3 separate regions of the Homo sapiens genome follow, and regions 2 and 3 are each reported to be linked to region 1. The links are microRNA targets in miRTarBase. Many come from high-throughput screens and were not tested one by one. Region 1 holds a microRNA gene; each other region holds the end of a gene's coding sequence.
What was found. Region 1 holds the annotated microRNA hsa-miR-212-3p (UAACAGUCUCCAGUCACGGCC, at 1,879-1,899, shown strand). A microRNA usually pairs through its seed, bases 2 to 8, with sites in the 3' UTR of a target mRNA and lowers its output. Matches are read on the target gene's strand: a 7mer-m8 pairs with bases 2 to 8, a 7mer-A1 pairs with bases 2 to 7 and ends in A, and an 8mer does both.

Region 2: miRTarBase lists ASF1A as a target of hsa-miR-212-3p. Seed matches in the 3' UTR shown: 8mer at 2,800-2,807.
Region 3: miRTarBase lists RBP2 as a target of hsa-miR-212-3p. The part of its 3' UTR that is shown has no 7-base or 8-base seed match.

What each region holds. Positions count from the first base shown.
Region 1 is chr17:2,044,387-2,052,188 of GRCh38, reverse strand. MIR212 (microRNA 212) reads left to right here and starts at 1,809; the gene lies at 1,809-1,918. MIR132 (microRNA 132) reads left to right here and starts at 2,181; the gene lies at 2,181-2,281. It overlaps LOC124903896 (a long non-coding RNA gene), which reads left to right and starts at 2,240. Exons shown (of 2, transcript XR_007065576.1): 1 at 2,240-3,028; 2 at 3,431-3,482. RefSeq lists an enhancer at 85-980 and silencers at 1,526-1,675, 1,686-2,485.
Region 2 is chr6:118,906,271-118,914,072 of GRCh38, forward strand. It overlaps ASF1A (anti-silencing function 1A histone chaperone), which reads left to right. Exons shown (of 4, transcript NM_014034.3): 4 at 1,132-2,901. The coding sequence ends at 1,344. MCM9 (minichromosome maintenance 9 homologous recombination repair factor) reads right to left here. Exons shown (of 14, transcript NM_017696.3): 7 at 7,025-7,150; 8 at 5,380-5,499. Among named protein-coding and RNA genes, the nearest start is that of ASF1A, 16 kb to the left of the region's middle.
Region 3 is chr3:139,446,941-139,454,742 of GRCh38, forward strand. RBP2 (retinol binding protein 2) reads right to left here. Exons shown (of 4, transcript NM_004164.3): 3 at 7,789-7,802; 4 at 5,944-6,226. The coding sequence ends at 6,176. All of the region lies in intron 3 of COPB2-DT (COPB2 divergent transcript), which reads left to right. Among named protein-coding and RNA genes, the nearest start is that of RBP2, 26 kb to the right of the region's middle.

The sequences.
Region 1 (7,802 bases):
CGCTCCCAACCAGGGGAACTGCCCCACAAGTCATGGGCTCTCCCTGCCAATTCTGGTCTCCGGGAACATTAACTTCTCCAGGAAACCGTCCTCCTCATCCCCTGGGGGCCCCTCTTGGCCAAGCTGCTGGTCTCCTTCACTCTCTATTACCCTAACGTGAGCTCTGGGAGCGTCCATCGTGCCACAAATGGTCCGAAGGTGGGTCCTGGATGCCAGGCTCTGGAGCGTGGCACTGACAGCCTTTCCTCTCTCCCTTGCTGAGGCTGCCCATTCCTCTCACCCCTACCTCTGGCGCGTTCCCCCAGCTCCCTCATAGAGGATCCCGTTGCTCATCATTTCTGGGGAGGTTGGCCCACCTTCCCCAACTTCTCTGCCGTCCCTCGGGTCTCCAGCTCCTGGGTGGTACCTGAATCCCCGCTGGGCCTTCCCTCCCAGGCCCAGGTTCCTCCGCTAAAGACTCCTGGGCTACTTTGGGCTCCCCTACTCTTCTTCTCCCGGCCCCCGACGCCACAGCCCTCGCTGCGCCCCAGGCCCCCACGGGAGTCCAGCTTCCTCTCCTGCCCACCCTGCAGGACGAGAGGGTGGCGACACCGCAGTGGCCTTGCGGGGTGTGACGGCAGAAACGTCAGGTCCAGGAACTGAGGAGGGGGAAGGGGCTGCCACGTGAAGACCCCCAGGAGCCGCGGGGCTCCGGAAGGAGAGCGTGAATAAGCTCGAAGGGCCCGCCGCGCCCCTCCGCGCCGCCTCCCCGGCCCCAGGCCCGCGGTTCCGGAAAGTTAACCCCTTGTCGGCTGGGCAGGGGCGCGGCTCCCCCTACCCCGCCGCCGCTTCCGCGCCCCCTCCTCCCCTCCCGGTCGCCTCGGTCCCCACCCCCCGCCTCGCCACTATAAATAGCCCCTTTTCCCATTTCCTAAATTCCCCGCTGACGTCGGCAGCGCGTCAGTGTGTAGGAGCCGCGGCCGCATGAATGAGCCGCCGCACGAGTACTACGCGCGCCTATAAAAGCCGCCGCGCCGGCCAGGCTGCGGGAGGCGACCGGGCAGTGGCGACGCGGCCCGCCAGGTAAGCGGGACGGACCAGCCGCGGAGGGACAGATGTGCGGACACGGACGGGAGGACGAGGAGGGGACGGGCAGGCGGCGGGTGGGGCGGCCCCTCCGGGGTGGGGATGGGGGCGGACGGGGGGCACCGGGGTCCCCTCGCGGCTGCGGAGCCGGGGCCAGAGACGACACGAGCCCGCGCAGCACCTGCCGGCGCCCGATGGACACGCAGCTACTTCGGAGGAGCATCGAGTGGAGGACCGACCTCGGAGACCCCCCCCCGGCTTTCTTGGGGCTCCTGCGCCATTCTCCCAGGAAAGTGAGGCGAAGGTGCTGGCGCCCCAGGAGACGCGCCCCCTCCTCTCCCTCCCTGCGGCGCGGTGACTCAGCCTCGCTGCCCGGGCCGGCTGAGCGGGGGTGCAGGCGAGAGACGGACGCCCACCCCCGCTTCCCCGGCCCTCCTGGGACCCCCGCCCCGCATGGCGTCGGGCGCCCCTTCCCGGCAGGTCCCGTCCAGCGGGTCCCGCGGCGCCCACGGCTTCCCGCCTCTGCGAGCGGAGCTGTCCTCTCAGGACCGGGGGGGCGGGGCCTCCCAGGTCCCGCCCCGCCCCCACGCCCCCGCCGGAAGTGCCCCCTCTGGGACATCTTTGACGTCACGGCCCTCTGACGTCAGGGGCCGCGTGCCTGGTCGCGAGCGCCGGGCGGGGCAGGGCGGGAGACGCAGGGGAGGCGGAGCAGCAGAGCCCCCAGCCGGGGCAGCCGGGGCGACCGGGGCACCCCGCCCGGACAGCGCGCCGGCACCTTGGCTCTAGACTGCTTACTGCCCGGGCCGCCCTCAGTAACAGTCTCCAGTCACGGCCACCGACGCCTGGCCCCGCCCCAGGACCGCGGCCCCGGCCGCCGCCGCCGCGCCCGGGGACCCCCAGTCCCCGTCCCTCAGGGCCCCGCCCCCGGCCCGCTGCCTGCGCCGCCGCTGTCCGCGGTGCTGATCAACGCAGGCGCCGCCATCGGGCCGCCCCGTCCGGGTCCCTAGGGGCTGCGAGGGGCGGTGGCCCACGCGCGCTCCTCAGCCCCCGCCGCCCCGCCCGCCCCCCCGCGGCCCTGACGTCAGCCCGCCCCGCGCCGGCGCCGTCCGCGCGCCCCGCCCCCGCGTCTCCAGGGCAACCGTGGCTTTCGATTGTTACTGTGGGAACTGGAGGTAACAGTCTACAGCCATGGTCGCCCCGCAGCACGCCCACGCGCCGCGCCACGCCGCGCCCCGAGCCGCGGGCTGGGGACGCGGAGCAGAAGGAGGCGGGGGCGGCGAGTCAAGATCCCACGTGCCCGCGCGGGTGGCAGGAGGTGCTGCGCAGGGAGGCGGCCTCCCGGGGCCGGCGGCTGAGTCCACCGAGGCTCGAGCGCGCGCGTCCTGCGGAGTGCGTCTGGCGGCCAGCCTGAGGCCGTCCTGTCCTCCCGGCCAAGGTATCCCAGCCAGGGCTCGGCGAGAGAAGGGGTCGGGCTGGGACTCGGGTTCTTTCGATTTCGGTGAGAGGGAAGCCACTGGGACCAGGAGGCTTGGAAGGAGGTTTGTCTCCTGGGGCCTGAAGACAGTAGAGGGAGGAAAGTTTTCTGAGATACTCCACAGCCCCGTTCTTCCAGGAACCCCTAGCTGAAGTGGGCATTGGGCGAAGAGTAAACTCTTGAATCTTTCCCTCTGAGCTAGGAGGATAAGAAGGGTCCCCAACCCTCTGGAAGCCAATGAGCTTGTAAAGTTAACCTGGTCCGCGAAGCGTCTGAACAGATCAGCCTGCTCACCTCAGCCTATCTCTAGGTGCTGGATTCCAATCTGAGACAGTTTCTCAAATTAGCCCTAAAGAGGAGTGAATACCACAGGGGCTGAAGTCCTCTGGTGCGGATGAAGTGTGAACAAGGATCTCTAAAAATATTATTGTATATGTCGCCTGCCTCTGCCAACATCACCCACTACAGGGGATGTCTATTGAATATCAGGTGTGAGACTTCCCCAGAGATAGTGTTGGGAATGGTTAATGCAACCCAGCCCACGACACGTTAATCCAATTTTTCTTAACGTCTCACGCCCCACCCCCTCCTTCACTCCCCACCCGGCTCCTTTGTGAAGTACTTCTAAGACACTCGTGCCGGTTTCCCAGTTAATCAACACCCACATGCTAGCCATCCCACCTCCCCAGGGCCCCGAGGTCTTGCAGATTAAAACGCACTTGCTTCTGGGTTCCAGGGGATGTCAGTGGGTGGACTGCAGTGGACTGCTGGGTGTAGTGCTCTGGGAAGCCAGAGGTCCAACCTGGCATTATCAGCAACTGGTGGTTAAGGGGCCATATTCTGTTTCTGAGCTTTCTGTAAAACGGGATAATAATCTCTTCTCCTCGGCAGGTGCACTGTGAGGATTAAATAGGATCATGTAAGTAAAAATCCAAAAACAGCAGAATGTTATTTTGATCTTAAGTATTCTGTTAGGCTACTACATGTTTGTGAAGGGGTGGTGTTGGGAGGGGACCCCAGCTCTGTGCACTTAGGCAGAATGAACGGGATGTGGGGGGTACACCTTGAGCTTTAGGCTATATATATTTATTGTCTAATATATATATAATCTATATTATATATATGTTATACATACATATACTTTTATTTTTTTTCTTCTGAGACAGTCTCGCTCTGTCGCCCAGGCTGGAGTGCAGTGGCACTATCTCGGCTCACTGCAACCTCCGCCTCCCGGGTTCACTCTGGGCCTGGGGCTGTTGAGAGGTTCCTTGCTAAGGGGGTTCTCTCTCCTAAGAGCTCTAGGAATCCAAGGTGGAATCAGAGGTGGAAAACAGAAATGGTTGGGATATTCTGAGAAGAGGTCAGAATGTGGTCAGAGGGGAAAGAACCAGAGGATTGACCGTACGTCAGGGTTGTTTAGCATCTTAGAAATCATTTAGGGCAGGGCACAGTGGCTCACGCCTGTAATCCCAGCACTTTGGGAGGCATAGGTGGGAGGATCTCTTGAGCCCAGGAGTTCGAGACCAGCCTGGGCAATACAATGCGACTCCCATCTCTACAAAAAAGAAAGAAAGGAAAGAAGAAAGGAAAGAAAAGAAAGAAAATTAGTTGTGCACACCTGTAGTCCCAGCTACTTGGGAAGTTGAGGTGGGAGGATTGCTTGAGGCTGGGAGGTTGAGGCTGCAGTGAGCTGTGATTGCACCACTGTACTCCAGCCTGGATGACAGAGTGAGACCCTGTCTCAAAAAAAAAAAATCATTATTTAGGGCTGGGAGACATGGCTCATGCCTGTAATCACACCATTTTGCGGGGCGGGGCAGAGGCTGGAGGACTGCTTGAGCCCAGAAATTCGAGACCAGCCTGGGCAACATAGTGAGACCCCATGTCTTAAAAAAAAAAAAGCCAGTGTGATAGGTGGCACCTGTAGTCTCAGCTAAGCTACTCAGGAGGCTGAAGCGGGAGGGTCACTTGAGCCGAAGAGGTCGAGGCTGCAGTGAGCCATGATCCTGCACCTGGTGACAGAGGTAGACCCTGTCTTAATAATAATCCAGCCTGGCCAATATGGTCAGACTCCGTCTCTACTAATAACACAAAAAATTAGCCAGCCATGGTGGTGCTTGCCAGTAATTCCAGCTGCTTGGGAGGCTGAGGCACTAGAATCACTTGAACCCAGGAGACGGAGGTGCAGTGAGCCGTGATCGTGCCACTGAACTCCAGCCTGGGTGGCTGAGTGACACTCCGTCTCAAATAATAATAATAATAATGGTACCTACCTCATGAAGTTGTGAGATTAAACATGAAGTTGTAAGGTTTAAGCTATATATATTTATTGCCTAATATATATAAAATATATATGTGTTATATATATATAATTTTATTTGTTTTTTTCTTCTGAGATGGAGTCTTGCTCTGTTGCCCAGGCTGAAGTGCAGTAGCATGATCTCGGCTCACTGCAACGTCCGCCTCCCAGGTTCAAGCAATTCTCCTGTCTCAGCCTCCTGAGTAGTTAGGACTACAGGTGTGTGCCACCACCCCCAGCCAATTTTTGTAGTTTGTTTTTTTTTCTTTTTTTTTGGAGACAGGGTCTAGCTCTGTCTCCCAGGCTGGAATACAGTGGCACAATCACAGCTTACTGCAGCCTCAAAACTCCTGGGCTCAAGTGATCCTCCCACCTGAGCCTCCCGAGTAGCTGGGACCACAGGTGCATGCCACCACACCCAGCTAACTTTTAAATTATTTGTAGAGAGGGGGTCTCACTATGTTTCCCAGGCTGGTTCTGAACTCCTGGGCTCAATTGATCCTCATGCCTTAGCCTCCCAAAGTGCTGGGATTATAGGCATGAGCAATCGCACCTGGCCCTAAATTAGGCCGCATTAAAGCTCTTGCTTATTACAATGTCTGGTATACAGTTATTACTCAATAAATGCTCTTCTGGCCGGGTGCAGTGGCTCACACCTGTAATCCCAACACTTTGGGAGGCTGAGGTGGGCGAATCACTTGAGATCAGGAGTTCAAGACCAGCCTGGCCAACATGGCGAAACCCTGTCTCTACTGAAAATGCAAAAATTAGCTGGGAGTGGTGATGCACACCTGTAATCCCAGCTACTCTGGAGGCTGAGGCAGGCGGATCGCTCGAACTCAGGAGGCGGAGGTCGCAGAGAGCGGAGACTGTACCACTGCACTCCAGCCTGGGTGACAGAGCGAGACTCCGTCTCAAATAAGTAAGTAAATAAATAAATGCTATTCCTATTTCTATCCTTCAGACCTAATTTTCCTTTGCTATAAATTGAAAATGTTTAAGCAGTGATTGTTCTGGGGAGCTTGCTCCCCTCCCTGGTGGGTTGCAAGAGAGTCACACTAGGGGTTTTTCAGATAACACACCCTCACCCGAGGCTTTCATTCAACCCCTAAGGCAGTGGCTTTTCAAATCCCTGCTTGGGAATGATGGGGGCAATTTGCCAAAATGCAGATTCCTGGGTCCCAGTGATTCTGACTCAGTACATCTGGAGTTGGCCCCAGAATTCAAGTTGGTTTTTTGAGATGGAGTCTCACTCTGTCACCCAGGCTGGAGTGCAGTGGCACAATTTCGGCTCACTGCAACCTCCGCCTCCTGGGTTCAAGCAATTCTCCTGCCTCAGCCTACCAAGTAGCTAGGATTACAGGTGCATGCCACCACGCCCAGCTACTTTTTTTTTTTTTTTTTTTTGAGACAGTTTCGCTCTCGTTGCCCAGGTTGGAGTGCAATAGCGTGATCTCGGCTTACCGCAACCTTTGCCTCCCAGGTTCAAGCAATTCTCCTGCTTCAGCCTTCCAAGTAGCTGGGATTACAGGCATGCGCCACCATGGTTGGCTAATTTTGTATTTTTAGTAGAGACAGAGTTTCTCTCTGTTGGTCTGGCTGGCCTCAAATTCCCAACCTCAGGTGATCTGCCCGCCTCCGCCTCCCAAAGTGCTGGGATTACAGGCATGAGCCACCACGCAGGGCCAGAATTCAGGTTTTAACCAATGTTCTGGATGTAAATGGTACACAGAATCTGCGTATTGGGGGTGGGGAGGGGCACAACCCCCTAAGAGTCTCTCTTGCTCCTGGACGGCATGATGGGAAGTGACCTGTTCCACTTGTCGAGAACTAGTGGACCCCATGTTTCCCTCTAGCTTGGACACTATGGTTCTCAGGAGGAATCCTCACCCCCGGCCAGGAGCCCTTCTCCTCCACCTACTACTGCTGGGCTCTACCTCCCCCACTTTTAATTTTAAGCCTTGGCTCAAAATTCACTCCCCAATATTTCTCCCCTTCTCTCTACTTTCGTCCTCAATAATCCCAAGCAGCTGGGGTGTACAAGTCGTTTTCACCTCTTGGGACCGTGCTAAAGGGGGCAGCCTATGATTACCATGAGGGTATGGGAGCCCTGAACTGCAAATCTATCATTTCCAGAGAAGCCAGAAATCTGAAATTTTCTGTGCAATTTCTGAAACTTTAAATCAGAATTTTTTCTAAAATTCAATGGGTCAGATACCACAGTCTGTGTAATCAATCCATTCCAAAGTCTCCTCCTTTTGCTAAAGGAGAAGATTCCTTAAAACAAGGCAGAAGCCAACTGAAGCAAGGGAGAACCACCTCCCACCCCTCCCCACACACACTTTCCACACCCAGTAACTAGGTCTCTGGGCGGATAATTCTGTTTTGTTTTGTTTTTTTTAATTTTGGACAGCTAATCTCTGTAGTGAGGAACCCAGAACTTTCGGTAATGTAAGGGATATTAGTCTGGTTGTCAGAAAAATGGGCTGGAGTATTTGTGCTGTGTCCCTGACCATAATTCCTGCTCAGTTGCTTAGCTCCCTGGCAACTATGTCTGAGGGCTAAACAGGAGTTGGTGTGATCTTCCAGAAAAAGAACAGGCTTCTTGTCTTGCAGAGGCAGGAAGTCAGAAAACAAGAGTGTGTGTGTGTGTGTCAGGGGGTGGGGGGTGTCAGGTGGCACTGGAAATGGGAGGGAACTCATTAAGAGTGGGCAATTGGCCAGGTGAGGTGGCTCACGCCTGTTAATTCCAGCACTTTGGGAGGCCAGGACAGGTGGATTGCTTGAGCTCGCAAGTTGGAGACCATCCGCACAACATGGTGAGACCCCTTCTCTACAACAAATACAAAAATTAGCCAGGCATGGTGATTTGCGCCTGCAGCCCCAGCTGCTTGGGAGGCTGAGGTGGGAGGATGGATGGCTTGAGCCCGGGAGGTGGAGGCTGTCAAGATTGTGCCACTGCAC
Region 2 (7,802 bases), not on the chromosome of region 1:
CCATGTTGGCCAGGGTAGTCTCCAACTCCTGACCTCAAGTGATCTGCCTACCTTGACCTCCCAAAGTGCTGGGATTACAGGTGTGAGCCACCACGCCCAGAGAAAGTACTTCTTGTAAGACAGGCCTTTGTTTATGGCTTTCTTTATAGCATTTCCCATATTGATTATTCCCATCATGATTCTGTTCATTTCAACCTTTAGGACAAACAAATGCATTTTTGTTGTACTAATTATTCAATGATGATATTTTTGTGTGTAACTCTTCCCAAAATTATGAAAGTTTTATGTTTGTTTTTCCTATGAATACGGTTATCTCAAAACACCTATACGCTTTATCTGCTATTCTTAGAAGTTAAACTAACAGTCTTAAATATTTCTGGTACTGAAAACAGCTTAAATTCTGAGTGAGAAGCTGAAATCTAGGATTCAGCATTCTTAAAGATACTTAGTATTTTCTGATTTTTCACTGGGAACTATAACAGTTTGGTAACTGGTGATTTTGTGAGAGTGCAGAGTAAATGAAGTTGAACCATGCAAGAAAAATTACATGACAATAGAATAGAATGTTCTCATGTTCTTTCTGATAATAAGGCCGGACTATTTTTCACCCTTGTTGTACCTTCCATTGATCCAATTTGTTATCCCTGAAGCACCTTATATAGCACAAAAGAAACAGGACTGTTTCTAAGAATGAGCCATCTTTAAAAGGTGTAGGAAACCATTAATAATAAGTTGTATTTGACAATTTTTCATTTTCCTTTGAAAACATACCAATCTAAACAACATAGTAGCTTGTTAAATAAAGCATCTTCTGAAGCATTCATTTTCAAAAATGAGGAGATTCTTTCTTTTAGAAAACAGAAGTATAGGAGTTAAATAGTTAAAAAGCCAGATGAATCCCCTCAGATTCTCCGTATCTTGTTTCTGTTAATCTAAAATAACTTCTTTGCTACAGCCCTAGTCGTTACATCTTATTAGTTATATTTAAGGTACTTAACTTGAATTATACCTTTGTATATGAACTTAGCCCTTTAGGAGTACTAACATGAACCATTTTATTAAGCTTCTATTTGTATATGGTGATTTAACTTTCTTAGTGTTTACCATTTGTATGTTTCCTTTTTCCTCTAGCTTCAAAGGAATATTTTGGCATCTAATCCCAGGGTCACAAGATTCCACATTAATTGGGAAGATAACACAGAAAAACTGGAAGATGCAGAGAGCAGTAATCCAAATCTACAGTCACTTCTTTCAACAGATGCATTACCTTCAGCATCAAAGGGATGGTCCACATCAGAAAACTCACTAAATGTCATGTTAGAATCCCACATGGACTGCATGTGACCACCTACCATCCCTTTAGTACAAATTAAGCTATTAAAAATACACAGAACTATTTCCCTGAAATTCCGTAAGTACATAGTCAAAACACAATGTGAAGAATTTGTTTAAAAACATCCTGTAGAAAGTTTATAAGAAAACCAGTATTTGAACAAATTGTGGAATATAAATACAACTATTTTTAAGTAATTTTTTTCTCTAATGTGTTATTTTATTTGTTCTGAAACTAATCTGATTAAAGCATATATATTATTTTCTTCTCCTTTATATGTAATGAAAGCACTTATAAAGAAACAGGAATCATTAGACCAGGTTGTAAAGATGTCTTGGCCTCCCAGACAGTCTTTGGACCACTATTTTACTGGCCTTTGAAAGAACAAAGTTTACTTCAACTAAAATGTTTCTTCCTGTGAAGACATATGGTATCATTTTAATTTAAGGGGCAGATTTCCATTCTTTTTTGGCATGTCCTTAAAAAGAGGATTTGAAATCAACTATATGCTACCAAGAACTTTAGGATCCAATTTTCCAAGCCACCGTGAAGCCTCTTATGGCTACTATTATAGTTCATGAGATGTTGGACAGCATTTGGTTTGTTTGGTAAGAGAAGAACAAATATGGCTAATTGTTAATAAGGTCCCCTGGCTATGGTTTTTGTTCTTATAACAGAGTTTAGAATATCAGAGCATTTCTTGAATCATACATCATTATTGTCCAGTGAATTCAAGACCAAATACAATATCGGGAGAAAATACAAACTCCCTGTGTTTAAGAATAGGGGATTACAATGGCTCAAATTGGTTCATTTGATTTCTAAAAATACCATGACCTTTAAAAATTCTTTTAATAGATCATGTTATTGGCAGTATTTATATAAAAACCATGGATTTAGAAAGGTATATTTAGCTTTATTATAATAGATACGTTACTATTTTGGAAATATATATATTTTCACACCTGTAGTACTCTTCCCCATTTCCTCTGACACTCATGCAGAATGAGATCAGGCATATTTGTGGTTGACATACTCTAGATAGCTTTTCCAACAAATCTTTGAAAAGCAATCTTGGAAAGGAATTCATTAACTAAATGGGGTAAAAGGTTTCTTTTTCTTTGAGAGTTAAGTCCTTCCTCAAAAAATTTTCTTATGCTCCATAAAATTGAGGTAGAATATTTTCATTATTCTTGCAGCTAAGCAAGACAGCCATATGATGCAGGTTATGCAGTGCCTTCATATCTAAAACTTTTATACTGCACTTTTTAAAGCTTTTATGTTGAGGAAAGGAAAAGGGCATTTGTCTAAACATGGATTCTGAGTTGTATATATTTCCTATCATTCTAAAAAAGTGAATTTGTGAAGCAAAGTTTTGCCAGATGTTAAACTTTGAATTTAATATACCAGATTATTAAAATATTGTCCATTAACTAGTTCATAGATTTTAAAAGTAAAATACTTCTGACTGTTAAAACTATATAAAGAAAATCTCATTTGTCTAATTGCAATTAAAAGAAAAATGTTAAAATATTAAAATGAAAATAAAAGCATTACTTTCCAACAAAGAGCTCAGTGGTTAATATAATAGGAACAACATATGTGCTTATTAGAAATAAAGCATATACAGCCAAATCACCAAATAAAGCCATTTACTGCTGAGTTTTTATTCTGACTAATTATAACAATCTATTTGTAGTGACATCAAAGGGTTAGGTTTTTGTATCAAGTTGTAAATGGACAACCAATTTTCACTTAAGCTTGGGACATGCGAACCATTACCTTTTGTTATCTTAAATTTTATCACTCTAAGAATTTTTTTAATGACTGAAAATAGATTTAGACTTCAAACATTAGAAACGTAAGAAACTGTAGCACATAAGTTTTTTTTCCACCCGGTCTAGCGTCATTTGCCAATACTGTATCTGAAGAACTATTTTCCACCCTTTTGCTCATAGTAAATAGCTGTGTCCTAAGAATATAAACATGAACCAATGACTTATGCCACTAAGATGGAGGCATTAAGGGTATTATTTGGGCTGAGAAAACATTCCAGAGGTCTGAAGAAGTATGCATGCATTTATTTGCCCATTCATAACCTTATACAACTTTAGGCTCCCATATAACTATACCCTCTAATTTTAGGATTTGGGGTTTCTAGCTTTCCCAAGAATGTCTATGGCAGCAGTTATCAAAACTTTTTACCATAATCCATGGTATAAAAAACTTAGGGCCGGGCGCAGTGGCTCACGCCTGTAATCCCAGCACTTGGGGAGGCTGAGGCGGGTGGATCATTTGAGGTCAGGAGTTCAAGACCAGCCTGGCCAACATGGTGAAACCCTGTCTCTACTAAAAATACAAAAATTAGCCAGGTGCGGTGGTGCACATCTGTAATCCCAGTTACTCAGGAGGCTGAGGCAGGAGAATCACTTGAACCCAGGAAGCAGAGGTTGCAGTGAGCTGAGATTGCATCACTGCACTCCAGCCTGGGCGACAGCACTAGACTCTATCTCAAAAAAAAAAAAAAAAAAAGACTCCATAACAAGTTTATATTTATGTTAAAAAATTTCATGAAAACACATCCTTAGTGCACCTTTACTATGCAGTATTTTGGTTTTTTTTTAATTGTATTTTACTTTGAAAGTGCTGGTTTTGACCCACTGAATTGACTTTTATGACTCTAATGGGTTGCAGTACACAATCTGAAGAAAGGCTAGCGTGGCCCTTTGGGTAGACCAGAAGTAGCAATAACTATTCTATAACCGTAAAATTTATATTCCCTATACTTGTTCTCTCATATTTGGATTATGATCTTTGCATTAAAAAGGAGGAAATGTGCTAATATACTTTTATACTAATTCACTAATCCAGTGAATCAGCAGCAATTCACTTTCAAACTGCCCAAATACTCTGAAATTACCAGTCATCCACTTAGATGGCTTGGACTCATTTCTTGACACTCTACATAATTACTTAGGAAACATTCCACATAATTACTTGGGAAGCATCTTTATTTGTTGTTGGTATCATTTTATACAGAACTCTAGAACACTGGGTCATACGGATTTAAAACGCATGGGAAATATTCTTTATATATTCTTGCCTAGTATCCTGAAGTTTGTCTACCCTTCTCAATTCCAAAAATCCATTCTTGTCAATGGTTAATATACTGTTGAGTTATATTTCAAAACCTGAGACCTCCTTAACAGTTTTCCACTTATACAGGACCATTAATTGGCCATTTTCTGTTGTATGATAAATTTTAAAGTGTTAGTTTCTCATTAGAAATTTGAGCATTCATTAGCCCAATGGAAGTTAATCTGACTCCCTTAACAAGTAGCAAACATTTTTAAAATGTGTGAAGCCAAGGGTCTGTTTTCAGAAGAACAGAAACATTACCCAATCAAAACTGTAAAAATACAAAATAGCATCAAACATATTTTTTAAAATAATTTTTTTCTAAATTCCCTGGGTCACTTTATTTATAATCAAATCTTGACATTCTACCTGCAAAGGCTTTTAAGTGTACTTGCTAAAGAATCATTACAACTTATGAATGAAGCTCCACATTGCAATGATGGAAGTATATTTTCCAAATATTAATAAACATTCCCTACCTAAGAAATTTCAGTAGGAGCTACTGTTGCCTATCAGATTTATGAGCATGAAAATGCCTTAAGCTCTATACCATCTATCTACTTGGTAAAGTGAAATATCCCCCTCTTTAGTTTAACATTCCAGTTGCTGAGTCTTGATAAAATGCCAGATGATACGGACTTTTTCCTGCATAAAAGTATGAAGGTAATCACTAGAGAATGAGAAAATTGAATAGGATTGTTCAAAACTAAGATGCAAAGTGAAGGTGGAGCTTGCAAGATATTTTCTTAGAGCTACCAAAATAACATTGCATATTTCCTTCCATTTTTAGTGGTAACTCAAAAATTAGCTTGAAATTTATCCTATTATAGGTAGTTTTTCATTAGAAAAAACCATTGTGTTAACTTCTGAAGTAATGTTAAATTACTTGAAATTGTCACATACAATACCTGCACTAGTAGATCCAATTCCTGTGGTCAGCACAGATCTTGGTGTAATCTTTGCTGCATATTTGAGGAACTGAGATTTCCCTGTGCCAGGATCCCCAACCAATAAAAGATGAGATTCTCCTAGGAAAAAGCAAATACATGAAGTTTTAAATTTCTATAAAAGGGTCCATTTGGAATGCCAACAAAATATTACATAGTGTTTTTACTGTGTACTTTTACATAGGGTCGTTTGAGAAAGGATTTAACTAGAAAATCTTCAGAAAGTTAACTGTCATAAACAGTCCTTAATTGATTACTCAATGTGACATAGAATCTAAATTCTATTAATAAATTATGTGCTATTTCCAGATGTTCAGGCCTATGTTTAACATTTTAAAAAATATCTGGGGCCAGGTGCGGTGGCTCACACTTGTAATCCCAGCATTTGGGAGGCCAAGGCAGGAGGGTCACTTGAGCCCGGAAATGTGAGACCAGCCTGGGCAAGACTCCATGTCTACAAAAACAAACAAAAAATTTTTGGCTTATAAAGTTTCTGATTTACTCTATTTTTAAATATCAAACTACTATGATTAAATCCTTGCATACAAGTCATATAAGTATTTTATTCTATTTTTATTTAAGCACTTAGAAGTATTAGGGATTTTACAAGTACTTTACAAATATCAAATTATGATTCTAACAGTTAAGTGAAGACCTTTTCATTTATGAAAATTTTAGTAACTTAGTGAAATATGTATCTTAAAATAAGTACTCATTTTGCAAATGTAACATAAATAACGTGCATATCCTATGGTACATATGATTTCACTGACCAAGTTTCTTCAGCAATTCTCAAGTGTTTCCTAAATACATTAATAGGAAACCCCTATTTAAGCTCAACATTTGGCAGAGTGCCTTGCAAAACAGTAGGTGATCAAAACATATAAGGACGCCTTATACTTACTATTCTATACTGTACTATATGGTTTTCGAGTCCCTACTAACAGCCTGATTTATAACAATGCCCTTTTAGTCTTTTGGTTTAATTTTTGGTTATTATGGCCCACGTACAGGGCCGTAATAACCCGTATGCCAGACTCTGGTTAAGTGTGTTAGCTGCAAAAGAGCTTTCTGCCATCTGGACATAATTATACACTTAAGAGTAATCTTTTCTTGAAGGTGTGACCTGCAGCAGCACCCCATGGCAGATGGCACATTTGCTATCTACCAGCAGAAGGAGAATCAGCAGGCAGATGACTGAAAGCAGCAGTCTAAGAGAAACACAGTGACAGCCACAGATGGAGAGACGCTGACTGGAGACATTAAAATACACTATTTCTAATCTTTTTCCTTTTGAAAACAGACCGGGGATCCAACAAAAAACACAGTAATAGAAACAAAGATTTTATTTTGTGGCATCCTTATAGGCTATAGCAAAAGTATATGCCATAGAAAAATGTAACTTCTTTCAGTCTTTCTGGAACTCTAGAAAGTAGCTTCTGATATACAGATGCTAGACTAAGTATAAGATATTCAGACAACTGTCAGTTTTATAAGATTACAATTGGAAAATAAAACCCAACGAGCAGTTTTTATTTGGGAAAGAAAAAGTTCTAGCTTCCATCCATGTGTCAATATTACTCAAAATTTCTAAATAGGTACTAACCTCTGACCCGTGTTCCTGTAGCATCAGTCCTTTGAATCCCACCAGCCAGCACCATGGCCACAGCAAGCTTTACTAGATACATTCCAAACACTTGAGGGCACAAGCTAGCCAATATTACATTCCTTCCTAGGAAAAGCAGAAAGATCAGAAATCAGCAATAATTTTCAAGAAACCCCAACTGAAATTTCCCTTCCTTTCCTATCTGACCATCCTCATTTAAATATACTCTACTATGTGAAGTGATCAGGAGGTCCAATTCCAAATGACCAACAGGATTAAAGGAGGAAATAACTTTGTTTTGGTTCAAAATGTCCTGTTTTTTTGAGACAGGGTCTCACTCTGTCACCTAGGCTGGAGTGCAGTGGCGTGATCATAGCTCATTGCAGCCTCAAACTCCTGGGCTCAAGCAATCCTTCTGCCTCAGCCTCCTGAGTAGTTGGGACAGCAGGTGTGCAGCACCACGCCCAGCTAATGTTTTTTTTCTTTTTTGGAGCAACGTGGTCTCACTATGTTGCCCAGGCTGGTCTCACTCCTGGGCTCAAGCAATCCTTTCATATCAGCCTCCCAAAGTGCTGGGATTACCACCCAGCACTCATGAGTGGTATGAGCCACCGTATGTACTTTCTATGTGACAATTTCAGTAAAATTACTCCACTGCCTAAATAAAAGGAAGGTATTCAATCTCAGAAATAATGAGTCAGATCATACAAGTCAGTAATCTTTAAATACAGAGGTAGCTGGAGCTCATGAAGCTGCTCCAAAGGTATAAGAAATAAGT
Region 3 (7,802 bases), not on the chromosome of region 1:
TCTCACTTGGTTAGTTTTTGTGAGATCTGGTTGTTTAAAAGAGCCCAGAACCTCCACCTGACTGTTTCTTGCTCTCTTTCTTGCCATGTGACATCACTGGCTCCCCCTTTGCCTTGTGCAATGATTATAACCTTCCTGAGGCCCTTATTGGAGGTAGATGCCAGAGCCATACTCGTACAGCCTGCACAACTGTGAGTCAATTAAACCTCTTTTCTTTATAAATTACCCAGTCCCAGGTACTTATAGCAATGCAAAAACTATCTAACACTCCTGGTTTCAAATGATTGGGAAGAAATGGGATTAGAGGTCTCTGAAGATGCCAGGGCTCTGGAGATTGCTGGGGGAAGGATAGCCCTGTCCCTGTCAGGGGCCGCCTCCTGTGTGGAGGGCCTTAGGGCTCTGGAGAGAGAACCCCTGTGTTCAAATTCTGCCTCTGCTACTTACCAAATATGGGACTTTGAGTATTTCACCTGGTCTGAATGGGCACCTACATCCTAGTCCTGGAAACAGCTCAAATAGGGACAGAGGAGGTGCTTAACAAAGGATTAAGCCTACAACCTGGATCTATTCCTTGCCTTGAAGACCAGTTGAGGGCCCAGGATGAGCCTCCTGTGGGTGCACTAGCTCTGCTTTAATTGCCTAGTTCTAAAATGAATCTTCCTTTGCATTGGAGAAAAAAACAACAGAGGCTACAGAAAGCCCCTGGGGTCTGTCTCAGCTGCTATTGCTCTGACTGTGGTCTGTGAACCCTGGGTAGGCAAGACATAGCTCCCACCTGTTCCTCTTTTCATCTCTTGCTGGTGAGGAGCAGGTGTTCTTTCCAAGCTTCTCCTATCTCTCTCCCCTCTTCTTACTTGTTCCAGTCTTTCTCCCTCCTCTTCCCTCTCCTCTTCTTTCTTCTTCCTTTGCCTTATCCTCTTCCCTGCTTTCCTCTCTCCCATTCTTTCCCCCTCCTCTGCTCTTTTCTCCTCTCTCTTTCTCTCCTCTCCCTTCCTCTTCCCTCTGCCTTCCTCTTCACTTCCCTTTCCTCCTACCCTTTCCCCTCCTTTCCCATCTTCTCTCCTCCTCTACCCCCTCATCCCTTCCTCTTCACCTCTCCCCTCTGTTTCCCTTCCTCTCCCTGCAACATTCTCTCCTCTCCTCCTTCCTCCTTTCTCTTCTTCCTCATTCTCCCCTCCTGTCCCTTCTGTAGCTCCCCTTATCCCTTGTGGCATCAGCATCTCCCAGCCTCAAAACTGGCAGTCACTGTTTCATCAGCTCTGGCCCCAGCCAAAACCTCCCTCCCTTCTCAGCCAGCAGCAGCTGCTGGACTCTTGAAGGGGGTAACAATTAGTCATTGGAGGGTGGCAGTGGTTGAGGGAGACAGAGCGTGCCAGCCTTTGCAGTCATTGCTCTGTCACCTCATGTACAACAGGCTTAACTCAACACGTGATCTTCCCTTTGGCACCCCCCTCTCCCTCTGCCACTGCTGAGCTGTGTTGTGTGTATTTGTCCTCCCTCGTCCCCACACCCACAACCATCTTTATGCCCTCACCTCCTCTGTGAGCTTTATGCAGCCCTGCCTAGTGTGGCAGCTCCTTAAAGCACCTCTCTTGTTCTTCCCTTCCTTCCTGTGACCACTCCCTATCCCTAATATGGGTCCCTCACTGCTTCTCCCCTGAAATACTTGATCCTGGGTTCCTCTCCCCACCTTCATCTGTCCTGTCAACAATGACTGGAGTGCATTCCTGGTTCATGTCCTCCTAGGGATGAAAAAGAGTGACATCTTTCCTCCCCACCACACTCCTAGAACAAAAGATAGGTTAACAAGAGAAAAGCATAACACATTTATTTAATCAAGCTTTTATGTGATATGGGAGACTTCAAAAATGAAGACCCCAAGACCCAGGGGAAACTGTTTTTATGCTTAGGTTTGATGAAGAGTGGACAGCCATGTACTCTTTTTGTATTGGACAAAAGGGGTATAATCCAGTAGTAATAGACTGAATGGGAAAACCCAGCAAGGCCTGTCTGTTCAGATTCTTCTTGGCCTCTCTGTTGTAGCATTTCTTCCTTCTGGGTATGATGCAGGACCCCTCTGCAATGAGGGCCTTAGGATCTAATATCAGATAAGGGTAGGTCAGAGAATTTCTTTTTGGCCACCTCCTAGACAGAAGGGGATGGGGAGGTCAGAGTAGTATTTCCAGGGTTCATGGCTTACTTTGGGGGAGAGGGGTTCCAGTTTTTATGACCCACCTAGGGTACAAGGAATTATGTTTCTATGACTTGCTTTGAGGGAGAAATGAGGGGTGAGAGATAGGAAGCAGGAAGTCAAAGAGACCATGGTTCTGAGGTTGCTTCTGAGGTCTTCCAATGTCCTTTAGTTCAAAGTACTCAGCACACCAAAGTGCTATACTTTGGGGTATCATTTTCTGAGCTGCAGAATCCCAGATACATCACTCTCCTCAGAAGCTCTGGCTCTCCTGGTGCACTGACTGAGACCAAACAAGTGTTCATGACCTACCCAAGCCTGAGAGAACAGCCCTCCAGATCCTGGTCCTCCTGCCTTCCACCATGGGCAAGAACCCCCACCCCACCTCTCCCCAACCCTCCTTGCCTTTTTCTGCTTCCCGCCTTTGCTTGTGCTGGTTCCTTCTCCACCTGTTCCCATCACCCATACCCTGTTCCCATCACCCACTGCCATTATCCAGGGCCTAAACATCTCCCCCATTATGAAGCTGCTCTAGAGAGGGTGACGTCGCTTCTCTTATAGGACTCGTTGGACACAGTCAGGGGCCCTAATACTGCATCAGCAGAAAGATGTGTGAGTGGTTCACATGACCTTTGACCACTGACTTTACTCACCTATGGAGGTGGACTTGGGCTTTTGCTTGAGAATGTGGGTGTGCATATGTGGGAAAATATGTTTAAAATGATCATGCTTTGGATGAACGAGGCTGGGTTTACCAGTGTATTTGCTAAGCACTTGCAGAGGACTCGACTGGGGAGCTTGAAATAATACATATTCCAGGGCCCTGTCCCTGACCTCAGAACCAGATTAGAGGAGCAGGGGAGGTGGCAGTAATCTGTGTTTTTAATAAGTCCTTCTGTTTGATCTTCACATTTGGAAATGACTACAGTAAGTGATCTCAGTATTAAAACTCTTAGAAAGCAAAGAGTTTTCATGAAGGAAATAATCACCTCATTATATATGTATTACAATGGATAAATATATGGGATTGGGGAGGAGAATCTGTATATAGGGAGAGAATTGACTGTTGTTTCAGGCACTGTACCACAGGGTCTTATTCATTCCTTACTACTTCCCATGCAGCAGGTTCTATAATCCTTACTTTACAGATGAGAAAGGGGAGGCTCAGAGAGGGGAAGTAACTGCTGCATAGTCACACAGCTGGAGAGTGACAAGGTCCATGTTCAAACCAAGGGCTGATGCCAAAGTCCAAGCTTGAACCACACTGCAATGCTGCCCATTTGTGAGCCTGAATTTTTTTTTTAACTTTCAAGGACAGGTTTTCTTTAACTTTCAAGAACAGGCCCCACTGGTTAATGGCTAACCCCAATGTCTCTCATGATACTCCCTGGAGGTAGGGTTCTGAGGTTCCAAGAGTGCTTCCCACTGGCCTGCCCTGTCCTCAGTATAAGCCCTAGATGGGTCTTAAAATTTAATCTTTTCTACTGTATTCCCGACTAGGCTTGTTGGTGCTGGAGTGAAGCATTCCTGCCATGGTTTGGTTCTGAAACAGGCTGAGGGAACAGAAATATGAGAGAGGCAACTTGACTTATCCCATCCACAGTGAGTGCTGGAATGAAAAGAAGGCCCTGGCCCAAAATAGATGCCCAGGCTTTTCAATGGGACCTAAAATTTTACTACTTTGAGTTCAGATGCATCTTCTTTGAAAAAGAATTATCAGTAGAATGAATACAGCCACCATGAGTCTTTCATACTATAGGTAAACTAATTCATTCAGTTACTTTTCATTTGTGGAAAAAATATACTGAGACTATTCCACTTGGAAAATGAGAGTTTTAAAGTATATTGTTGCCATGTATAATTGAAAAAGTGGCATGCACATGTTGGGAATGAGTTCATTGCTTCCAAAGCACACTGTGGATGTGGAACTCTTCTGGGTGAAGGGGATTCCATGGTTTCAGGCTGGGTGTCTTTGCTGGAGGACTTGTCAGAGCTTTAAAAATGCTAATTCTCATTGTGAATTTCTAGGAAGGGGATATAGTTCTCCAAATTTATTTGACCATAAACCTTTTCATGGAATCTTAACCCAGGATCAAAAATAAATACTAACCCCTTACCTGCGCAGAATACTTCACAGTGAGTCCCCAGTGGGCTTCAGACACAACCTCATTCAATAGGGTTTTCTTGAGGGACAGATGAGAGGTCATTTGAGCCTGTGGCGAGCAAGGGCAAGCCTGGCGAGAGTGATAGGAGTGGGGATGGGCTCTTGGGGAAGCTCTAGGAAGGTGGGGACAAAGGGCCCACTTCACTGGTCCCTCTACTTGGTTCCCTGTCTGCCCCAGGAGAGGAGGCCTGCACTTCCTCAGGAGGCTCCCCTTCCTCCCCAGCGCCTCTCACTGACTTGACCAAAAAGGCCATGCATGTGAGAGAACTCCGCCTCCTCCGTTCTCCCGGCTAACATGAGGCTCCAGCCAGGCACTTTTCTGGCTTTCTTGCTGCAGGAACATGGCTTGGTTGTTTGGGAGCACAGCTTGCCAGGAGGCCCATAGCATGATGGCTTGATCAAAGGGCTTGAGCCAAGGCTGGCCCTGGGCCACATGGCTGGATTGCAGCCTTTCTATCCATCCCCCTAATCCCATTTAGGATGTTCAGGATCAATGAAAAGATCTGATCATTCAAATCATACCAAAGTGTGCTAACACCATGTGCTACCCCTCTGGGGATAAACCTGCTTTACAAAGAGAATGCTTGCCTAATGGTGGGACAGAAGGATGAAGGACATGCCTTTTACCTGTGGGACCCCATGAATTTAGGACCCCGTGAATGATCCATCACAAATCCGTCTGCATTAACCACTCTGTCCTTCCAGGTGCACTATTCCATCTGCGTATCCAGCAGCAAAATACAATTCTGCTCAGAATAATGAACCTAATGTTCTGAAGGCACCAGAAGGTTGTGGAAGTATTGACCTATCTCTAGTTAGCATCTGCTCACCAGGACCCCTGAGACTGTGGAGGGGGTAACTCAGCAGAAGGACCAGGGCTAACAGGGACTGAATCCTTACCACATACCAGGGCCCGTTCCAAACACTTTGCATGTTTTAAATTGCTTAATCCTCACAATGACCCAGTGGAGGAGATGATAGTTTTGTCTCTTCTTCATATTATGATAGAGGAAAATGAGGACAGAGAGGCCAAATGACAGGCCCATGGTCAACCAGCTAAGAAGTGAAGGGGCAGGACTTGAATTCAGGCCTCCTGGCCCCAGAGTTTGCAGCACCTGGCATGTGGCAGTAGTTGAGAAGTTACACTGAGTCTGAGTAGACCTGTAGTTAGTGACCCCCTCCACAGCACAGGGCTGATGGACAGTGGGCTGGCTTGGGCCAAGAGCAGCTGGCACTGCAGATCTGTTGGAATAGCTCTGCCCAGGCTGCCCAGGGCAAGTTGCAGACTGGGAGGCATATGTATCCTAAAATAGAACTTTTGAGAAATAATGTGCATCCAAAGGAATGAGTCTCAGACGAGGATGTTCAAGAATCAGTAGCAGATGCTGTGCGGGCCACAGAATGTTTCTAGGTAAAATGCCCTCCTCCCCACCCCCCATGTCCCCCACAACCAACAAACAAGCTAAGAAAAAAGAAACAAAATAAAATAAATTGAAACAAATTAATAAACATGCAAAAACCACACAGACAGTCATCTCTTCTGTCTGTGGGTAAAACTGACAGCTCTAGAAATAAACGGAGATCCATATAAAGGGTTTCAAAATATGGGAGTAATTTTTGTTTTTCCATTTAATGCTAGGTTTCAAAGGAGGGGAATATGTCTATCACTGCTACATAGGCATTCTGTTTAAAACCCACCCAGATGCCTTAATGGGGCTCTGTCAAGAGTGGGAAGGTCCCCACAGCTGTTTCTCAAAGCCAGTAGACCACTCAGTGTGGGCAGTGGGGAGCTTGTGCTTGGCAGGCCTCCCACGTCGCCATCATTTCTTTTTGAACACTTGACGGCACACCTGGTCACCACAGGTCAGCTCCTGCAACGTCAGAAAGTGGGTGAGGGTCTAACAAGCCAGGCCTTTCTTCTGCCCAGCCCTCAGCCCCCTTGGTATCTGGGGGTGGGAGGTTGGAATAAAGAGGACACTTAGGTATTCTGGGCAAAGTGCATCTCACAGACCCAATCAGCGGGCATGCCCTGCAGGTAGCAGTAATTTGATTTTGACACTTGAATTGAGCTTGAACAACTATAAAAATGAAAAATGCAAAGAAATGACCCTCTTGGGCAGGATTTCTCCTACTCCCATGATTAAAGTAACATGACCTAATTTATAAAAGGCAGCGAAGCCATGAGGAAGGAAAGGACCTAGTGTAGAGAAGTGTTTGGAAGGTAGGGGCCTGAAAAGATGCTGGCCAGTGAGCTGCCCCTCCACCCTGTGGGCTTTCTGGCCTCTGGTGATTAGAACATTGGCTGGTGGTGGCGCAGGTACCCGCAGGGTGTGAGGTGCAGAAGGGCTTTCCCAGGCTTGCCTGTGCAGCCGACAAGGTCCCGCTTTTCATCCAGATAGAGGGAGCCCAGGCCTTATTTGACCCTCACTGATCCTCGAAGGAGGAGGGAAAAACATGAGTGTGGGAAGGACCACCACAATCATTGCAGTTGACTGTGAATCCATTGTCTAAGCCACAGAGAGCACTGGGGATTGTATTACAATTAGAAAAATCCACCATCCAAACCAGTGCAGGTAGGGAAAGCCATCAATGCAAAACACGATAAATGCCTCCCATATATCATTAGCTGACATTGCCTTCAAAATAAAGATCTCAGGTGAAGCAAGGCTGGCTGTGAAGGGCACTGTGGCAACCTGAATACTGACATTGGAGCCAGGTACCTGCCTCATTCCAAAGGTGAGTGAATTAATGAATGAAGAGCCATTCACTGAATGAGCCATTCATTTACAAATGAGCGAAAAAGGATGAAGGAGTGAGAGATTTTTCACCATTTGAATGCTGAACCCATGAAGTGCCTTGAAGATTGAAGAATAAAAAATTAAGCTGTCTCAACAGGTATAAGATATTTAAGGATATCAGTTATTGTTCCTACTGCTCTGTTCTAGTACCAAATTACCTTAAAATATTTTGGGGTCAGAAGGACATACCTCATGGAGAGAGGTCAATACCTGTGGCAGTTCCCAGGCAGAGTGGGTCCTGTCTCCTCCCCACCCCACTCTCTCTCCCAGGCTCCCATCATTATGAGAAGGCCCTGTCCCACCCTCCTCCAGGGCATCTAAATTCTGTGGCTCACATTTCTCCCCAGCTGGTCTTTAGCAGGTTCCCTGTATTTCTCCTTGGATCTCTGCTTCCTAACTCAGCATTTTGAACTTTCTTTTGAATTGCAGCTGTTCACAGAAACAGCCATATAGATTTCTTCCTGGAGTCCCCTGAGCCAGATGGGAATGGCTTTCTGACTATATGACCACATGCATTTGGCTGGAGCTCGGGGTAGGAGTGCAGGGCCATTTTTCTTGTCAAAACACCTGGCTAGGTGACCACAGTAGCGTGTGTAAGCACAATGGAAGTGAGCTGAGCAGAACCCAGTACTTACCAGGTACAGCTTGT